Linked DNA regions of Homo sapiens: regions 1, 2 and 4 are each linked to region 3. Evidence: fine-mapped QTL for protein levels in blood plasma. A gene starts in region 3. Each other region holds a variant in brackets. All regions are shown on one strand. Distances are from middle to middle.

The links. PIP is the posterior inclusion probability: the model's chance that the variant is causal. The UK Biobank Pharma Proteomics Project read protein levels with antibody pairs (Olink). The fine-mapping took linkage between variants from a reference panel, not from the people measured, so its PIPs are less certain.
Region 1: its variant is fine-mapped to the plasma level of the FRZB protein (UK Biobank, PIP above 0.99).
Region 2: its variant is fine-mapped to the plasma level of the FRZB protein (UK Biobank, PIP above 0.99). The variant lies in the coding sequence of FRZB. If it changes the protein, the assay may bind it differently, which can mimic a change of level.
Region 4: its variant is fine-mapped to the plasma level of the FRZB protein (UK Biobank, PIP above 0.99).

What each region holds. Positions count from the first base shown.
Region 1 is chr2:182,844,726-182,850,233 of GRCh38, reverse strand. The region is part of intron 2 of FRZB (frizzled related protein); the gene reads left to right. LOC124907916 (a long non-coding RNA gene) reads left to right here. Exons shown (of 2, transcript XR_007087330.1): 2 at 3,142-3,659. Among named protein-coding and RNA genes, the nearest start is that of FRZB, 19 kb to the left of the region's middle. The variant A/G (reference allele first, on the strand shown) is at 3,079.
Region 2 is chr2:182,838,145-182,842,794 of GRCh38, reverse strand. FRZB (frizzled related protein) reads left to right here. Exons shown (of 6, transcript NM_001463.4): 3 at 252-317; 4 at 4,182-4,386. Among named protein-coding and RNA genes, the nearest start is that of FRZB, 26 kb to the left of the region's middle. The variant C/T (reference allele first, on the strand shown) is at 4,187.
Region 3 is chr2:182,864,061-182,869,568 of GRCh38, reverse strand. It overlaps FRZB (frizzled related protein), which reads left to right and starts at 2,932. Exons shown (of 6, transcript NM_001463.4): 1 at 2,932-3,494. The coding sequence starts at 3,017. RefSeq lists an enhancer at 2,801-3,769.
Region 4 is chr2:182,917,836-182,923,289 of GRCh38, reverse strand. NCKAP1 (NCK associated protein 1) reads left to right here. Exons shown (of 31, transcript NM_013436.5): 31 at 1-5,454. Among named protein-coding and RNA genes, the nearest start is that of FRZB, 54 kb to the right of the region's middle. The variant C/T (reference allele first, on the strand shown) is at 2,420.

The DNA of each region.
Region 1 (5,508 bases), 19 kb after region 3:
GTTCACAGCATAAAGAGGAATGTTTAATGTGGTGGATATTACCCTATAACTTGATATTTACACATTATATGAATGTATGAAAATATCAATGTACTCTGAAAATATGTCCATCTATTATGTATTAATAAAAAATATAAGGGACACTTACTCGTATCAGGCACAATATGTGCCAATGACATGGAATGAAAGAGCAAATAGGTGACTGGCACTCCCTTTCCTTTCACCTCTTTTCAATACTTGGCATTGAGTGGACACATGGTGTTCTAGAGGCTGTGAAGCCCCCTTTTCTTTTTGTTAATTGACTTCCTTAGAGTCTATCTCAAAACAACACTTCAGAAGTCATGAGGGAAAACAAGCATAATTGTATTGACTCTTTCTATATTTTGGATATTCTGAATAACTCTTGGATGCAGAAAACTTGTGAAAGGCAGTTTATTTGAAATTTTCCAAAGACAAAAAGGAATAAACTGAATTTCCTTTTCTTATTAATATAGCGTTAGTTCTGTCAGTCTTAAGCAATTTCTTTTACAAAGTGCAAATTACTGTGAATTGAGTCCTTTATTACAATATTTGAGGTTTGTTTTTACAGCTAAGTTGAGCAAATGTTACTTTTACTTTGTAAAGCCTTGTTATATCGCCTAGGTTCACCAGTCAACTTCATCACATTTTCCATATACTGGTGTAATCCAAAATAAAATTTAATATGATATTCTTTGCCCTGTGTATAGGTGTAGGAAATAAATATTGTTTTACATAGGTAATGAATGGTTACTAAGTCAAGACACACTTCCTTTTATAAAAAAATGAAAGAAATGTCTTATTTTTTGTTAATAGGACTTTATTAAGGTATAATTTATTTACAGTAAAATACTACAAATCTTAAGTGTATGCTGCATTTAAATTTTGACAAATGTATATATTTATGTAACCATCATCCAGATCAAGATAAAGAACATTTATTTATTTATTTATTTATTTATTTATTTATTTATTTATTTATTTATTTTGAGACGGAGTCTTGCTCTGTCGCCCAGGCTGGAGTGCAGTGGCGCGATCTCAGCTCACTGCAAGCTCCACCCCCCGGGTTCACACCATTCTCCTGCCTCAGCCTCCCGAGTAGCTGGGACTACAGGCACTTGCCACCACGCCCGGCTAATTTGTTGTATTTTTAGTAGAGACGGGGTTTCACCGTGTTAGCCAGGATGGTCTCGATCTCCTGACCTCGTGATCCACCCGCCTCGGCCTCCCAAAGTGCTGGGATTACAGACGTGAGCCACCGCACCCCGGCCTAAAGAACATTTCTTTAAATTGTCTGGTGTCTTATCACCCATTCTGCCCTGAGGCAAGCACAGTTCTGATTTTCATTGCCATAGATGGGTGTCGTTATTCAGCTTCACGTAAATGGAAGCATACTGTACACACTTGGGACTGGCTGCTTTGGCATACCATGGCATTTTTGAGACTTTGAGTTCTGTGCATCATTTTATTTTATTTCTAATTGTGTAAAAGTACACCCTTGTATGAGCATAATACCAATATGACTTCTATATGGTTCCTAGTTTAATATAGTTGATTTCTGAATCTGCAGGAGTTGTGCTGTTGTTGTTGTTGTTGTTCGTTTTCTTCCCTTTCATCATTGACACCAGGACTCTAGGGTTCGGGTGTTTTGTTTGTTTGTTAATGCCCTAGGAACAATAAGACCCTGTCGGTTTTCCATTAAGTGTCCATTTGATGACTTGCAATTTTGGGAAGAGGGAATGTGTTCCATGGGGTGGAATCTAGGGATGTTTTACTATCGCCTTGTTTCTAGAAGGATAGTGGAATTGACCTCCTGAATGGCCAAGTGGTATATTGCCCATCTTCTGTTTTAAGGGCTATCTGAACAAGTTCCACCATGGCATCCATTCCTGCTGCTGTTTTGATAGCTGTGATGATAAGGTAGATGATCCATCTAGTGCACTGATTTCTTCACTTTACTAACCTGCTTGTCTATTCTACCCCAGCCACTCACTTCCATGAGCAGTTCTGGGCCTTTCAGTGGTGCTAGCAGTGGTGCCAGCATTGTAATATTAATTCTAAGAATCCCATTCTTTGCCTGCTGCCTCTTTTCATTCCAGATGATTTGTTGCAGTATCATCACTGCTGTTTTTTTTTTTTTTTTTTACCATGTTGAGATTACCTATCCATCAGCTACTGCTTACTATCTGCTAAGCCTCTGGCCTTCTTGTCTATGTGAGATATCATGGTCTACTGCAATACTGATACCCTTGAAGATACCCTCAATTTCTTTGCTTTCTCTTCCTCTTCCATACTCATCTGGCAAATCCCAACTCCAGTTATTTGAGAAAATTACTCAACTGAGGTGACTGGTTTCACTTTAAATTCAAGATAGAAAATTCAAATAGACAATCAAGATTGCCAAGCATTCTTACCCACTATAAGGTTTGCCTTTCTATTTGATGAAATAACTGCTTTATACTTTCTTTGCTTACATGCCCACATCCTGCTTTTCGTAGCCCCTCATTCCCCATAGCTGATGACTTCACTTCATTCTTCAATGAGAAGGTAAAAGCCATTGGAAAGAACACCCTCATTATTCCACCAACCAATTTACAAACTTGTCAATATCAGTACCTTTCTCTCCTTTTCCTTCTTGTGTAGTGGATAAAGTCTTCTAGCTTTCAAAGTCCTATTCTCTCTTTTGCTCAGGGTCCAGTCATCACGTTGCCAGTTGAATTTAGTGGACCCTTTTCTCTCTGAACTCATTTTAGCTCTGAGGGTCATTTGACACAGAGGACTACCCTGCTTTTATTTTGGAAGACGCTTTTTCAATTCCACACTCTCCTGTATTTCCTTCCACATCACTGGATGCTGCTTCTCAGTCTCCTTTATGGACTTCATATTCTCTGTCTTATATATAAAGATGTAGTTCCTGCCTAGAGAACTACAACTCACCCAAAGCTTTAAATATCATTTTCTCACAGTATATTGGAGGCCAGACTAGTTTAGGTCATTAAGTTATATGTTCTTATTACACATATACATTGTGTTTTAATTTCATGTCATGTATCACATGTG[A/G]CAAATTATTTTGTGTGTACTTTCTTTGTTCAATGTCTTTATCCTCTTCTGGATTGTCTGTAGTGCCCATCATGTGTCCTACATGCCTATCACAGAGCCTGGAATGTAGCAGATGCCCAATATTTGCAGAATGAATGAATTCATATGTAAGTGACTGAAAGAGTTCAACAAATGTTAGTTCTCTTTCCCTTTCTCATCTCATATTTACAGAAGAATGGATACACCAGAGTTATGGAGTCAGAAGATACTACTATCAGTTCTACAGAAGAAAGACAAATTCATGGTGTGATGGATGTTACCAGATGTTAAAAATTATGGAACTGTTAAAAATTTTGGAACTGCTCATAGATACCTCGTACAGGCAGTTGGAAATATAGATCTAGAGCTCAGTAAAAAAGTCATAGTTAAGGACCTGGATCTTCAAATTATAAAATTTTATTTTTTATATCTTTTAAAATGTGTTGTGCTTTGCTCCTATGTGTTTTAAAATGGAGGAAAAGAGGACAATTGGGATTCAGGGGTCAAATGCCAGGATATGAGACTTACAGTGCATCTGGTAAAAATTAAAATGATTTAAACTCTGATCTGATTAGAAAAGGTCAGTCTTGAAAAAGTTATAAAGGAGATTGTAACACAAATACAATTGTATTTTCTTCTCTCCTTCCCCATAGTTTTTGACAATAAATCCTAAGCACAGATCTGAGGCTTTTTTTCCTAGAAAAAACAGAAAAATATCCACTCAAACATAGTAGTCCTCCAAAGTCATGGTACATGAAAGGTTATGAGAGTTTGGGGATCTGATGAAGTTAATTATAGTCTTACACCTCTGGATAAGACCCAAAAGCATTCAATTTCAAACAAAGGTCAGGGATAGTTAGAAAGTTTTATCACACTTAAGCTTGAACTCAAACAATGTTGCATTAAATAGTGACAGTCCAGTGAGTGTCATATTTCATAGCTGTATCAGGGACTTAGACTTCTTTAGATCTTCTAAGATCATATCAAAAATACTAGTATCCTTTTGTTTTTAAAAAATAAATGAGCATATTTGTATGAGCAAAACTGAATAAAGAAGGCTAAGATTCTTGTCTCCTCTGAACTATTTTGATCTTTATAAGAAGCTACTCTGAGGCAGCAAGGCTGTTCACTGCTCGGGCACTGCGTGTATCATGGGGCATTTCCCCTGAGCTGCAGACTAACTTCTGCGAAGTACTGGGCATGTTAACTTTGCAAACTCAGATTTCTTTCTACTAGGGTGATAAACTCATGTTTCTATGAAATAAACAGTCTCCAGGTTCATTAGCAGATATGTAGGAGATCATTAGTATTAGGAGAGTCACTAGAAAAATCAAGCAAGAGGAGTGGAAGGAATGTGAGGAAGAACTAAGCTGAAAATAGTTTTCTGTCCTTTCCATGGCTGCTGGTAAATGTAGCACTGCACTCTGTCCCACAATTGAAGGTATTGTATTAATTTCAGGCTTTGAGGTAAATGAATTGCTAATGTTAAAACTGCCCATGTTTGAAGATCTCTTTGTCACTACTTAGCCTATTTTGTCAAAACCAACTCCTTTAACTTTTAAAGTATTTTTTTTTCCTTACATAAAGCACCAAGGCAGATGCTAATTCATTTATAAGCTTTTCTTCTCAACAGTGAAATACAGAAAAATCAATATCTAATGGTTTTTGTGCAAAGCTCAGTAAATAATAGATTTCATTTTCCATTCTAAAAAACTTGTGCCATTAGGAGGTTGGGAGAGGAAGATTACTAGCAATTAAACAAGAAATGATGGTAATGCTACAGGCCCCCCAAAAAGAGTATCAAGAAATCAACTATAGGTAATAAAAATAAACTGTTACATCTGATTTAGGGTAGCAGGCACAAAAAAGGTGACAGCTAATGCATGCAACATACCTCTCTCTGATTCTTCACAATTTCACAGTTCTTGGGCTTGTGGGGATGTGTACGTTGATGTGTGTAAACATAATTCAGATGAGGATTATGTTTCAGATCTATTGATCTAAGATACCCTTTTCATGAATAACCTAAGATATGAATTTTTGGGTTGAGTAAGCATAAATGAGAGGAGGTTCTTTCATATTTGAGCTTTGTGGATATAAACTCAGCTTCTCCTTATTACTGTTATTTTATCGAGCTACTTGAACTATACAGATAATTTGCTTATGGCAAGAGCTAGGGATTGGGACATATTGTCCCATATAAATATTTAAAATATATATTTAGTATGGCATTGTCACCTTGGAGACCAGCAGAAATAAGAAGTATATTGCAGATGAGCAAAATTTAGTCCCGAGAATATTTGCTTAGCTCATTAGCTGTTAGGTAATAGTCTAGCTATGTATATGTAGTTGTATGCATAGCTTTGTAAATGCCTACTTGAAATATTACTAAATCATTTTGTAATATAATTT
Region 2 (4,650 bases), 26 kb after region 3:
TTTCCTCAGGATTTGGGTGGTTTGTTGAGAATGGAAACTCGTTCTCATGAGCATACTGACATTGAATAAGAGGACATGTAGATAGAATAAACATGAATGTAGTTCCAGGAGAAAAAATTCAGACACACAGAATTGACAAGAGCCTTCTCACCACCAAATTGAGATCTAGTCTGAGCAAAAAATGTGAGTCTGAGCAAAACAAAAGAAAGCTAATATTGGAAATGTGCTTATAACTAAAATGTGTTTTTCAGAACGCTGTAAATGTAAGCCTATTAGAGCTACACAGAAGACCTATTTCCGGAACAATTACAACTATGGTAAGGAAAATTTCATGGTTGATGTATAAACTGCTGTGTTAAGAGAGGTGTGTGGATGCACCTATGAGGATGTGCACATGTAAACGAGTGGAGCCATTTAAGAATAAGGCTTAAAAACAGAAGGACTATTTTTAGGAGCATAGTCCCTCTGCCCCGACCAATTAAAATGTCTCACACGGGCAAAATGCTTAACACTTGGTTGATGTTGAAGCACATCAAGCAGTATTGTCATCCTAGAGCCATGCACTTAAGTACACAGAGATAAGTATCAAGATACATGGGACTCTTCCCTGCCTGGAGGCTGAAGGAGGATTTGAGCTCAAGTTGGGTTGCATAGGCCATCAGTTGTGCTTCACTGAGTGAACAGCAGAGCACTTTGATGCATAAGGAACTGTTAAAAGACTCAAACTTGACTTCTTCAGTCAGTCTATCCCATGAAAAACACTGACAGATTTGGAAAGTAACACTTGTAGAAGTTGCTGGTATTCAGCGAAGGAAATGTGTTGTTATCTAGCTTGACTTAAAATCCGACATTCTAATAAACTAAATATTAATTGAAGAGCCACCAATCCAAATGTAGCTGACAAACTTAACTGAAGGATTAAAAAGCCTGCCATTTTTGCATCAGGGACTGTGCTAAGTGATTTCCATACATTATCTTTAATTTTCTCAGCTGCCCCATGAGATATATTACCATCTTGATTTTATCAATGATTATCGAACCTAAGTAGTCCCTTCTTTGATTGTTCACAATGTACTTTGGATGCTGGTGTATATTTTAGAGTCATAAATTCATTTATACAGTCATTATATTTAGAAAGGGCAATTAACAGAGCTTTCCCGTTGACACATAAGGGACTGATATTTACTGTATTCCATATGCATTTTGATTTTTTCTAATATCTATGGTATTAATAAAAGGTATGTTACTATCTCTGCATAAGACTATTGATGTTGAGTCAATGAGTAAACATGGAGATTAAACAGACTTTTACAGTGAACCTTATTAAAATAAGAGTTTTATTATTACATTTATGTACACTATTTTAAAGTATATAGGATATATACAGCAGATTTATTTCTTCTATACTTTTGGGAATTGAAAGGAGAGAAATGAATAAGACTGTAAAAGTTAGCTTCAATATCTTTCAAAATGCAGTGTATTAAAAAATATAAAGTTGAAAATTTTGGGTTTAGTTAAATCTCTTTAAAACAAATCCACCTTGTTTCCCAAATTTTTCTTCAATGGAATTAATTTCTATGTTTTGCCTGCTACTCCTCTTAAGAGGATTGTAGCTTTTCTTAGTCAATGATGGATGCTCTTTCTAAGTTTGTAAGCTTATGTTTATGTAAGAAGTCAAATGCCTGGCTGCTTATCTAAGAACCCGCTTCTTTACAGATTGATGTGAAGAAGCCTAGGGAAAAGGGAGCCCTTAATTTCTAGGAGATTAGCTTGTTAAGATTGAAAAATGCTTTCTGAACTTTTATATACTGTAACACTAAGAATAAAAACATATCAATTTTATATCAGGGAAATGTAATTATTTATATTTAATTTATGTATCCTATTATCAAGTTTTATTTTATCTAGCTTCTGTAGTGCTTCAATGGTTGTTGCTGTTATTTTTGTTAAAAATTGAATGACAAGTCATGGAAAGTGAAGGTCTTAGAGAAAGTAGCTGAATGAATATCATAATAAAATGGGATATGGATTATAATTAATGGAAAGGAGCAGATAATTTCTTTTTTGTAGCCAAGTAATAGCTAAGTTGATCATAGTTTCAGGATTGCCATTTGTCTGGGATTTCTTACAGTTTCTTTGGGGAAGGGAGGCACTCAAATGGTTAAATAGAAGGAAGAACTCTGAAAAGGAAGTATATTTTACTTCCAAAATATTTTTATCTTCTATATCTGCATGTCAAGGTGGGAGCAGTTGGAAATTCAGACAAAACCTCTACTTCATTTAGATTAATTCTGGGAAAAACTCCTTAAGTGTTAACCAAATTACTTGAGTGAAAAAGTAGGTCTTGTAGAAAGATATTTATTTTGGAGTGGGTACATGTGCTAAACATTTCTAATGAAAATAGTAGACACTGGGTAAATAAATCATTAGTTTGAGAACATTTGCACAGTTCACTAATCTCTAATAGTTGATGGATGCTATGAAGCACGTTCACTTAAGCCAGGACACACAAAAATGCCTGCTAGCTGGGGTTGTGAATTTCTCATCTGATTCTGCCAAATGGCATTTCAAAAAGGGCAATCTTATCTTTTGTTAAATACAGAATAGGGAGAACATGAATAGAAAGAGGCTCCACTTGCCAGTCAAACCAAGCGAGGACAGTTGGGTAGTTACAGTTTGTTTGCTACACGTTCTCATACTTGAGGCAACTAATTCTCGGAAGACTGAAATGTGAAGCTTTTAGAATTCCTTAGTAACTAATTTCTGTCATGTGTGTTGTACTGGTAGAATAAGTTTTTGTGACGAAATTGGAACATTAATGGGGGGAATGGTTGATTAGCTGGTTTTATATTTTTCAAGGATTACTTTCTTCTAATCCTTTATAGTCCAAAATCTCTAAAATATGTGGGAAAGTACTCAGATTAAAGTGGTTTGCAATTATGTGCCTAAGAAGTTTTTGAAATGTTGACTCATTTGGATAAACGGTGTTTTCCTCTATATAATGTCCATGGATAGTGAACTGGAGCAATGAGGGTACTGGGAGAAATGCCACTGGCTTTTTACTGATATTTTTACTTCTTTCTTGGTGTTTTAAAACTTCTCTTTTTAAAAGCTCATTTACTAGAAGCAGGAATCTGAACAACTTGACTCTTTTAAAGGGGAGAGATACAGAAAAGAAGCAGATCTGTACTTTCTAGATTCTGAGTCACATACTTTAACTTTGCAACTGAAGGCAATTTGTTGTTACATTGATAAGTAAAGCAAGTCTTGTGAGATAAATTGGGTGCCAATATATCCATTGAGAGAGGTAGAATAATGCCATTGACACGTGAGAATATATTCCATAGCACGTGAGGGAAAGGAATGTTGGAGTGTCTGACTTCAAAGCAGATGGAGGAAATAAGATCTAGTGGTGACCATTTTTATTCAAGAAGTAAATATAGCCCACTTAGAGGAGAATATAAAAGATAATCTGTACTGAACACAAAGGAAAAAAGGACCTAATATCCGAACAAAGAAGAAAATGTAGCCCACCTAAAGGAGAATATAAAAGATAATCTGTACTGACCACAAAGAAAGAAAGGAGCTAATATCTGAACAGTGAGCCAAGATGAGGAAGGTGAAAAGATTGCAGAACCAGTTTGGGAACACTACTGAGCAGGACAATTTTATAACATTACAGAGGCCCACTACTTGAGAAAACCTGTTAATGGACCTGATAAAACAGTGTCGACAAGGAATAAAGCATATTTAAGTATTAGGTCTTTTCATATAGTAAAATTAACATAGTTTAAATTCCTCTTGGCAGCAATTGGAACTGCACATGCATATATACACATCCAAAATGGAATTTTAGAGAAAAATTGTATCAGATTGTTGACTCAATCTTTGATTCTCTAAATGGATTTCTCAAAAGCACATGCACACACATGCATAAATACATGCAAATATATACACAGCCACAAATTGGAAAGAGAGCAGGGCTGAGCATTAGGTCAGGTGTGTTGTTTTATGTCACACACTACAGTCTAAGGCAAAAATATCTGGCTGACTTTTCTGTTCCATTCGTTGAATATCAAGTGGATAAGAATTAACTAAAGAGAAGCCTACTTTGGCTTTTTTTGAATGGGGTAGCTATTATGTGTCATATTATTATCAGCTTTTCTTGTCTTTTATCCCAGTCATT[C/T]GGGCTAAAGTTAAAGAGATAAAGACTAAGTGCCATGATGTGACTGCAGTAGTGGAGGTGAAGGAGATTCTAAAGTCCTCTCTGGTAAACATTCCACGGGACACTGTCAACCTCTATACCAGCTCTGGCTGCCTCTGCCCTCCACTTAATGTTAATGAGGAATATATCATCATGGGCTATGAAGATGAGGAACGTTCCAGGTAATTCACTCTTTAAGGATACAGAATAACTACTTTGCTTATCCTACTCTCATTAAATTTGTCTCTAGAGATGCTACCCTCGCATTTTTACATTGGGATCTGTCTACCTTCTTGGGGATTACAGATAAGTTTTAGTTGGGTTTCTTGATTTCATATATGGAATGGGTGTATGCGTGTAGTTTATAGGTTTACATTTTTCTTGGGAGAGGGGCCATAACTTCATTTGTTTCTTAAAGGGGTCTGTGACTTACAAATGGTTAATAA
Region 3 (5,508 bases):
GGAACTAAACTAAGTGTCCATGTCCATCAAATGATGAGTGGATAAAGAAAATGTGGTATATATACACCACGGAATACTACCCAGCCAGAAGAAAGAATGAAATAATGTATTTTGCAGCAGTTTGGGTGGAGCTGGAGGCCATTATACTAGGTGATTTAACTCAGGAATGGAAAATGAAATACTGTATGTTCTCACTTATAAATGAGAGCAAAGCTATGGGTACAAGAAGGCATATCTTTGAGAGGTATAACAGACTTTGGAGACTCACAAGTGGGGAGCTTGTGAGTCTACTAGGGAGGCTGAGGCAGGAGAATCTCTTGAACCCGGGAGGTGGAGGTTGCAGTGAGCCAAGATAGTGCCACTGCACTCCAGCCTGGGCAACAAGAGCAAAACTCCATCTCAAAATAAATAAATAAATAAATAAAGGAATAATTTGTAAAAACAAACACTGTTCAAGGGTAACTAACCAGAAAAATGAACACAACTAGACAAGGTACTCAAAAGGGCTTCCTCAAGACAGTGACATTTATTTTGGGCTTTTATAAAAACAAATTTGGATTAAAGTTGTAAGGGGACCTATTAGACAAAGAAGATAGCTGACTTTTGTGCAGGGGAAGGAAAACAGACTTTGTTTCAAATAGTTGTAGAACCTTTAAAACTATTGGCACATTTCTTCTCACACTGTAAGACTTAAGATGAACAGAAAAATGTATTTAGCAAACAATCTACTACATCTACTCCTGATGTTTTTTCTTCTAATTATTGAAAATCTCAGCTATATTTTTCTTATACAAAATAGTCCCAAAATGTTCTAATGTTGACTGTCTTTTAAAGTTGTTTTTCCTCTAAATTTTACTTGATAAATCATTTTAAATTCGTTTGTACAATTTTTGAATTTGTTCTCTTACATGACACTAGATAATTGTAGACCAGGCAAAGTTTGTATACTAACTGACTCCCTGTCTACCATCTGGTGTTCCCCGCCCCCGCCACCATAAGTGGAACAAACTTCCTTCCAAAAAAATTTACAGCAGTCACAAACTGCTGTTTATGATCATTTTAGATATAAAATTCCATAACTCAAGTTAGCATTGACATTTTATAAGTGCTGTCAAGTCACTCTAGGGAATGAAAATGAGCATCTCACTATGTGCTCTGAAGTGGGGACATATTTCTCTGCTTGTTATGGACGGTGAGAGATGGCTAAATTGAAGCAGAGAAATATTTCAGTGATGCAGAGCAAAGGTGACTTCCTGTTTTGTTTCAGGTTTTGTTTCCTTCTCCTCTCAATGAAGGCTGTGTTTTCTGACATTCGGCAATCCTTTTGCTCAGTGATTTCCCATTGAGAGGGCATAGTGTGAAGGCCTCTGCAGGTCATTCCATTTACAATATAAGCTGAAAGGGTAGAGTGGGGCGGGGGTGGGGGGAAGAGGGAGCTCATTAGTGGAAGAAGCAGACCAGGAGGGGATCTGTTTTCCATTTTCTCCTCCAGATTGAACTCATCTGGATGGAAAGGTTTTGATTGTTGTTATAATCATCATTATTACCTGCGTGATGTCGTTTTCCTACACTTTTTTTTTAAGTGTCGGGCAGAATTGTTGCTGAGAATAACAAATAATATCTGCCATGTTATCCGTGAGCAAAATCAGAAAAAAAAAGTCCAAGTGTATTAGAGCTGTTAGTTTCCACGTTAACCCTTAAGGAGCAAAGCTCAAGAGTTCTAATTCCACTAGGTGGGGGGGGCGGGAATAGAAGGAAAAAACCCCTTTTCCTTGCTTCTGGTGGCCTATTTGTAGTCATGAACAGCATTTCTTTGTTTCTCTCTCTCTTTTTTTTTTTTTTTAAAGGCAATCCTCCCCCCACCTCCTCCCCCGCAGTTATTGAAAATGGAGACCTCTGTAGTCACTAGCTCTGGGTTGATATGGCTCCACCGTTGCTCGCAGGGGTCTGTGTTTTCCGCTACTTGGACAAAGTGACATTGCTTAAGCCTTTCCCCCCACCAGGTCTGACTTTCTGCAGAGCCAGTGATTGCAGAGGAAAAGCTGTAGTTTGCTTAAAGGAAATACCTCCAGGAAGGAGGGTCTCGGGTGGGTTCCCAAGTGGGGAACTAGGGGGACTTTTCCGTAGGGAATTGGGGTGGGCTCTTCAGTGAGGGGCTAGGGGCTCGTTTCTGGGGCCAAAGACGGGTTCCCTAGTGTGAGGGCGCGCTCGACTCGGCGCTGTCTTGGGGTCTCGCACTCGCACGGCTTCGCACCCCACCGCCTGCGACTCCCAGGCCTTCTCTTCCCCGGGCGCCCACTCCATTCTCGGGAAGAGCAGCCGGCACTGGAGGGCAGAGACTGCCCCAGGGGCGGAGCTCCCTCTCAGGCGGGAGGTAGGAAAGTGCAGAGCCGCCCGGGCAGAGGCACAGACGTCCCTGCGGGGCTCCTCCTGAGCGTCCCTCCTGCCAGCCAGGGTCGCAGCCGCAGCGGCGGCCGCAGCTCTTAGCCCACACAGGACTTGTAAACTCTTACTGCACCCTTCTCTCCCATTAGGAGCTTTTCCTCCCTCCTTCCCCCCAACCCCTCTGTCCTCCTCACTTTGGGGAATTTAATGCTTTCTTTAGCATCTTTTTGTGTGCGTGATCTAGGGGAGGAGACACCCCAGAGCTCCAACTAGCTCTCAGCTGAATTCTACTTTTGTTTTTATGTCTTCCTCGCCTCCTCTCGTGTCCCTCTTATCTGACTGATCTGCGAAGTCTGATGCTTCTGCCAGAGGGAGAGGAATAAATAGATGTTGCTGCTTCCGAAGGCTTAGACGTTGGGAAAGAGCAGCCTGGGCGGCAGGGGCGGTGGCTGGAGCTCGGTAAAGCTCGTGGGACCCCATTGGGGGAATTTGATCCAAGGAAGCGGTGATTGCCGGGGGAGGAGAAGCTCCCAGATCCTTGTGTCCACTTGCAGCGGGGGAGGCGGAGACGGCGGAGCGGGCCTTTTGGCGTCCACTGCGCGGCTGCACCCTGCCCCATCCTGCCGGGATCATGGTCTGCGGCAGCCCGGGAGGGATGCTGCTGCTGCGGGCCGGGCTGCTTGCCCTGGCTGCTCTCTGCCTGCTCCGGGTGCCCGGGGCTCGGGCTGCAGCCTGTGAGCCCGTCCGCATCCCCCTGTGCAAGTCCCTGCCCTGGAACATGACTAAGATGCCCAACCACCTGCACCACAGCACTCAGGCCAACGCCATCCTGGCCATCGAGCAGTTCGAAGGTCTGCTGGGCACCCACTGCAGCCCCGATCTGCTCTTCTTCCTCTGTGCCATGTACGCGCCCATCTGCACCATTGACTTCCAGCACGAGCCCATCAAGCCCTGTAAGTCTGTGTGCGAGCGGGCCCGGCAGGGCTGTGAGCCCATACTCATCAAGTACCGCCACTCGTGGCCGGAGAACCTGGCCTGCGAGGAGCTGCCAGTGTACGACAGGGGCGTGTGCATCTCTCCCGAGGCCATCGTTACTGCGGACGGAGCTGGTGAGTTTTGACACGGCCCACCCTTCCCTTACCCTACAGCCTCCTCAATTCTTGGAGTCCTTGTTACTAGCCTTTACTCTCTAATTTTTTTCTCTTCGGATCACTTAATCTCTCCCATAACTGCTCCTCTATCAAAGACCCTTCTTCTTCTTTCTTCTTTTTTCAAAAACAAAAACAAAAAAACCCTCACCTTATCACCTTCCAAACTGATGCACTCTGGCACTGTGTTCCAATAGGCGATCTTTCTAAAACAATCCATGCATTCCAAACCCATCACACTTCTACTCCACAGGAATCCTTCACTTCAACTCCTTACATGTGCAAGTAGCCACATTTTGTAAAGTGATGCTCTTTTTCTTTTAAAATGTGTTTATAATCATTGGGTTTTCTTTGCTGATTCTCAGGCAATCTCAGTCATCAGGTTTCTGTATCTTTAGTGTCTTAGATGCTTGTTAAGATTGTGTGGAGGAAACAGAAAACTGAAGCCCCATTTTCTTCTAATTAAAAATGCCAAGATAATTTCAATAACCTTACTCTAACCGACAGATGTTAGGGGTATGTGTTTGCTCAAGATCCAGTTTGAGCAATTACCTTCACCTTAAATTTCCCCCTCCTTTCAATGAGATAAATTGTTCTTCCATTCCAGAATGAAACAATTGTGAAACATTGCTATGCACTGTTAATTAGCTTCTGTGGCTTGCCATAGAGCTGGCAGACTGAAATTACTGAGCTCTTTTCACATGCCCACATGCCTTCAAGTCATTTTATAAGTGGCATACAGATGAAAGGAGTTATATTTAAGGCGTGTTATCATACACTCACGTAATGTTATTTTAAATCTCACCCCTTATTCCACTCTCATGTTTTGAAAAAAAAATTGTCTTTAATACCTTATTTCATGCTCCTTTTCCGTGTGTGCACCAACCACAGTCATTTCAGTCTTTCCCTACCATAAAACTTTATTGCAGCTCTAAATTTAATGGAGTCAATCACAAGTTGTTTTCTCACTAGTGTTTAGTCTAATTATGACATTTGTAACTTTAAGACCCCAACTAAACCTACTTCATTATGGTCCATTTAATTCTAACTCAGTATTACTTCTACCAACTAACCCAACCTCAAATTTTACCCTTCATATATTTTATAAAGAAGGCAATTTTTTTTCATGAGTGGTCCTCTTTCATACCACATCCCCCACCCCCCAACAACTCTGTTCTTAGATGTGTTGACTTGGTTGCCTCCATCTGTTTATTTCTTGGGCATCAACTTTCCTTCCTCTTTCAACTTGCGCAGTCTAGGCGCATGTCCCCAGTCCATTTCCAGGTAGTAATTCTTAGTTATCGGGAAATTGATTTGGAAAAATTACCTTCTGTGCACGTTGACTCATTTAACAAAGTGAGAGAAGGAGAAGTAATTGTAAAAATAGCTGAAGGAAAAAAAATAAACAGAAGAATTTCAAGAACTTTTTAATGGTGACCTCACTTAGTTTATCACTTTTTGAATATACCTATTGTCTTCTTGATTTTAATCAAGAACCAAAAGCTAGTTGTGCAAAATCATCACAGAAATGTATTTGCTATTAATCTTTGCTAAAAGAGCATGCTTGAGGCTTCGTACTCACTAAAGTCACAGACTGCAGAGTCTGGAAGTGCTCAGTGCAGTTGCCGCTCTGGTTTGCCAGGCACTTAGAATCAGTTAAATGCAGGTGCTCCTCTCAGGCCAAGGGCTAGGAATGAGGTGGCAGTGGTTCAGGCTGAAATGCATTCCTCCCCGTAAAGCACAAAACTTGCTCTTAAACCTCCCTTAGAGGTGGACCTAGAGTGAGTGAGGTTTGGCAAGGTTAATGGCTCTCAAAAAGCCATAGTCAATATGGATAGGAAGCAGTTTCATTAAGTGTCCCTGAGTTACCAATCACTGTGGAACAAACATGGAAACAGTTGCCTCATTGAAGCACTCAAATAGGACATGCATGGAAACAATTTGTCAGTTCATGGGACCTGATTTCTAAGCTTCT
Region 4 (5,454 bases), 54 kb before region 3:
AAAAAAAAGAAAATACTCATTTGGATAGATTGGATAGATTTTTAGACAATTTCTTTTCATTATTATAAATGTATATCTATATCTTGGTAAAGTTGACCTGTTATTTTTTTAGAATAATTTTTCAGAAGTAAAATTGCTTCCTTTCTGCTGCTTTTTCATTCACTTATTTAAGCAAGTATTTTTAGATGCCTGCATGTAATGGTGAGCAAAAAGGTGACCCTTTTATAGTTGAGCTTGGATTTTAGTGATGGTATACAATAAACAAACCAGCTTCTTGAGACGGAGTTTCACTCTTGTTGCCCAGGAAATGGGCAATGGCCTGATCTCGGCTCACTGTAACCTCCGCCTCCCGGGTTCAAGCAATTCTCCCATCTCAGCCTCCTGAGTAGCTGAGATTACAGGCGCCCGCCACTACGCCCAGTTAATTTTTGGTATTTTTAGTAGAGATGGGGTTTTACCATGTTGGCCAGGCTGGTCTCGAACTCCTGACCTCAGGTGATCCACCCACCTCAGCCTCCCAAAGTGCTGGGATTACAGGCATGAGCCACCACGCCCAGCCATGAGCAAACTTCTGATGGTGACTGGAAAGTATACAGGATAATGTGGGGAGGCAGTGGTGAAACTACTTTAGAAGAAAGTGTTAGAAGAAAGTGTCATCTGTGTAAGAGAAAACATTTGAGCTGGTACGTGAAGGATTAGAAGGAACCACAAGTGGGCTGAGGGGAGGAATAATAAAGGCAAAGACCCAGAAGGCAAGCACAAACTTGGCATGTTTGAGAAGTTAGAAGTGTGTCATCTGTGTCTCTGTCATGAGGAGTGCTCAAGTTCCCTCTAGGAGCCTTATGGGCTATCTAGCTCTTTTTCTCTTCTGATCATGTGCTTGCTTGCTTTCTTCTTTGCTTATATAGCAGAGTTCACAAATTAAATCTAATGTAGGCTGGTTAATAAAGGAAATGAACATGAATTCACTGATAGGCTCTTGCATTAATGTGAAAATGTAAAGTCTGTTGTACACCATCAGGCCTTCTAAATGAAGCCCAAATTCTGTAAGGTAGTGAATTGTAACCTACTGATTAGTACATGATCCATGCCCATTCTGTTATAAGGACTTGCCTTTCTGAGACTTCACCTGTATTATTCCTAAGACTTTTGTGAATAATCCTTAAAGTAGTGACTCCTTACATCTTTCTTTCATTTCTTCTTTGTAGTCACTTGAAATGACAGCATGAACCATCATTTCATTTGAAGGCCTGAGCCTGAATTTTCAAATAGACAAAATGCTCTCTTTCTCCGAAGATTTGCCATGACCTCTGCCTTTGGGAAAAAATATTTGAGATTTTAAAATTTTTATTCTGTAGTACAAAAATTATGTTTTTCGTTAATTGGTCCTGTGGAATTGGAAGGAAATTTAATATTTATTGACTCTACTTTGGTATTATTTTCAGAGTGAGAAGTAACTTTAAGTGTATTAAAATTTCATTCATTTTTGCATGAACCAAACTTTCCCTACACATCGCTGTCCTTGACTGTCCAGAGTAAACATGTCTAACTCTGGAATGTTTCATTTCCAATAAAAGTATTCAGCCTGTCATTTTGGGCCTAAGTAAAATGGGATAAATTAGCAATCTGAAGTTAGGATCCTAGCCACAGAGGGCCATGTCTCATTTCTGGTTTAAGTGCACCCCTCATCCCCAGCCCTTACCTTCTTCTTTCTCTTAAGGATTGAGACAATCCTCTTGGTGCTCTTGGTGCAGGTGCATCTTGGTCACCTCTTACATGAGGGCCACAAACTTGGTAAATGGGTGGCCTGGAGATGGGGTTGTACTAGGTATGTGACCTTGGTGATTGCCTTGTCTCAGTTGTAGTATATGGCTGAGTCACATTCATAGTACACTACATACACATACTGACCAAATGCCAATGGCTAAGGCTTGAAATTATTTCACCAAGACCTAAACTGAAGATTACCATCATAAAATAAGCTTCTAGAATCCATGAATAAGTAGGAAATCATATTTAAAATTTACTGTAATTTTATTAAAGCTCATTTTTTAAATTTAATGCAGTGCAGAGTCATTAATTTCTCAGCAGTATCAGGTGCTAAATTGCTCACTCATTAAACTACTAATTTAAGATAGTTATTTTAAATTATAGAACAGGAAGCAACTTACGAGGTTGCAACCAAATTATATTTATTTTTTCTCCATTAGTAACTGACTAAAAGTGTTTTCTTCAACTCTGGGATTTGAAGATTTTGTGGTCAGTGGTGATATAATTTCACTGAAGCGTGCTCACAGACTAAAACTGTGCACTACTCAGTGATGCGTCCTGAATGTTTTCAGAGACAAACCTAAGATAATGTTGCCCTTGTTTACTTTCATTATTTCTGATTTTTTTTTTATGCATGTGTTTGCTGCAT[C/T]ACACAATTACTTAAGAAGTTGTCCCTAACCTTTGTGCTGTGGTCTGAATGTTTGTGTCCCCCTGGCCACAAAATTCATATGTTGAAATCTGATCATCAGTGTGACAGGATGTGGGGCCTTTGGGAGGTGATTAGGTCATGAGAGTGGAGCCTTCATGAATGGGATTAATGCCCTCGTAAAAGGGGCCCCAGACAGCCGACTTGCCCCAACCACCACGTGAGGACAAAGCAAGAAGCCACTGTTCATGAACCAGAAAGCAGACCCTCCACAAACACCAAATATGCCAGCACACTGATTGGCTTCCCAGCCTCCAGAACTATAAGCAAGAAGTTTTTTTATAGTAACAAATTTATTGTTCACAGTTCTTGCTTATAAACTTTATAAACCAGACTAAGGCATTTCGTTATAGCAGCCCACACGGACTCATATTTTGGTTCTAGAAATGTGACACTGGAATGATGTGGCTCTCAAGATGACAGTGTTGCTTCTGAATGTCTATGTTCATGTCATCTTTAATTGCATGAACACCAGTTTTAGCATCTTCCCTTGAGTAGAAAGAGATTCTCTACAGCAAGTATTACGTAAGAAGTACTGGTGGCCAGGCACAGTGGTTCACGCCTGTAATCCCAACACTTTGAGAGGCGGAGCCAGAGGTATCATTTGAGCCTAGAAGTTCGAGAGCAGCCTGGGCAATATGTCTAAACCCCATCTCTACAAAAAAAATACAAAAATGAAAAAGCCGGGTGTGATTGTGTACACCTGTAGTCCCAGCAACTTGAGAAGCTGAGGTGGCAGGATTGCTTGAGCCCAAGGGGAGGGTTGGCGGCAGTGGGTGGTTCGAGGCTGCAGTGAGCCATGATTATACCAGTGCGCTCCAGCCTAGGTGACAGAGCAAGAGCCGGTCTCGATAATAATTAAGGCCAGACGCGGTGGCTCACTCCTGTGATCCCAGCACTTTGGGAGGCCAAGGTGGATGGATCACCTGAGGTCAAGAGATTGAGACCAACCTGGCCAACATGGTGAAACCCTGTCTCTACTAAAAATACAAAAATTAGCTGGGCTTTGTGGCTCGCGCCTGTAATCCCAGCTACTCAGGAGGCTGAGGCGGGAGAATCGCTTGAACCCAGGAGGCGGAGATTGCAGTGAGCCGAGATCATGCCACTGCACTCCAGCCTGGGCAACAGAACAAGACTCTGTCTCAAAAAAAAAAAAAATTATAATACATTAAAAAAAAAAAGCACTTGCATTCTGAAGGCATATTCACCCTTGAACTGATAGCATTCAATGTATAAAACACATGAGTTTCACTCCAAGTTACATATAGAATGTTTATCTTTATTTGAGAGGAAATATCCAGTTAATAATCAGAATGTCATACTAATTAGGTATGACCATAACTTACGTTAGTCACATGGTCATTGATTGCATGCAGATTCTGGCTGCCAGAAAGCACATTGAAGTAGGTAGTCATTTAACCATTTAACTGTTAGATCTTGCAAAGGTTGAAGCTGAAGCTGAGGAGCAGGTAGTACACAACTTTACAGGTTAATGCTGAATGTCAGTTCATTCTGAATTCTTACCTTCAGCCAAAAGGTACAAGGGTCTTTGCAGTCTGAAGCAAGGCCCAGATGGCAGAACTTGTGATGGCTAGGAGGGGAAAATTTGACCTTAACTGGTAGTTGTGGTTTTATCAAGCCAAAAATGCTGACTAGAATAATAATGAGAGCTAATGTTTATTGAAAGCCCATTGTGTACCAGATACTCTGTTTTCTCTAATTCAAACCTCTAAATATTGCTCTTTTAGTCTTCACAGTAATCCTATATCATGATGACCCCCATTTATTGATATGGAAACTGAAGCTCAGGAAAGACAAAGCAATTTTTACAAACTCACACTACAAGGAAGTAGCAGAGGCCAACATTTAAATCTGGCCCCAGAGTTGTGTTCTTCTCATTAAACTGTGTCTCAGATCTCTCAAATGTGAGTGTGGACTTTTCTAACCAATAGCATTTTTTAATTAATGTTTTAAAAATTTGAATAGCTTTTAGGGTACAGTGGGTTTTTGTTTACATGGATGAATCATACATTGGTGAAGTCTGAGGTTTTAGTGTACCTGTCACCCAGGTAGTATGCATTGTACCCAATGTGTAGTTTTTTATCCCTAGACCCGTTCCCATCCTCCCACTTCTGAGTCTCCAAAGTCCATGATATCACTCTGTATGCCTTTGCATACACATAGCTTAGCTCCCACTTACAAGTGAGAACATACGGTATTTGGTTTTCTGTTCCTGAGTTACTTTGCTTAGAATAATGGCCTCTGGCTCCATCATAGTTGCTGCAAAAAGACATTGTTTCTTTTTTTATGGCTGAACAGTATTCCGTGGTGTGTATATATACCACACTTTCTTTGTCCACTCATTGGTCAGTGGGCACTTAGGTTGGTTCCATATCTTTGCAGTTATGAATTGTGCTGCAATAAATATACACATGCAGATTTTTTTTGATATATTGACTTCCTTTGGGTAGATACCCAGTAGTAGGATTGCTGGATCAAATTCTATCCAGTAGCATTTGAAACTGCTTTACATTAACAATGAGGGACAAAAAAAATAACAATGAGGGCTTACATTATGCTACTCTTGATACTAGACATTTTCATATCCATTACTTCATTTAAACTCCACAACCAAATTACTCAATAGGGATTGTTTTCTTTATTTTTGTAAATGAATGTGGAAACCAGCTCATAAAACTTTAAATTCCTTGCCCCAGTGTCATAAAATTACTGAGTTTGAGTGGCAGTGCTGAGATTAAAACCTAAGGCTCTAGGATTTCCAGCCCATATTTTTTCTACTGTATCATGTTCTTTCCCAAAGCACTAAAAAACATTTCCTGGGTAAATGACTGTGGGCTTGGGGACACTATGCCCACTTTCTGGCCTTCATGGGTCTAAGTTGCTTCTTTGCTTCTTCACTTTTTCTCTCTGATCCTGCTCAGATTAATCTCTAGTAAATCAGATTTCTTTCCTAGGCT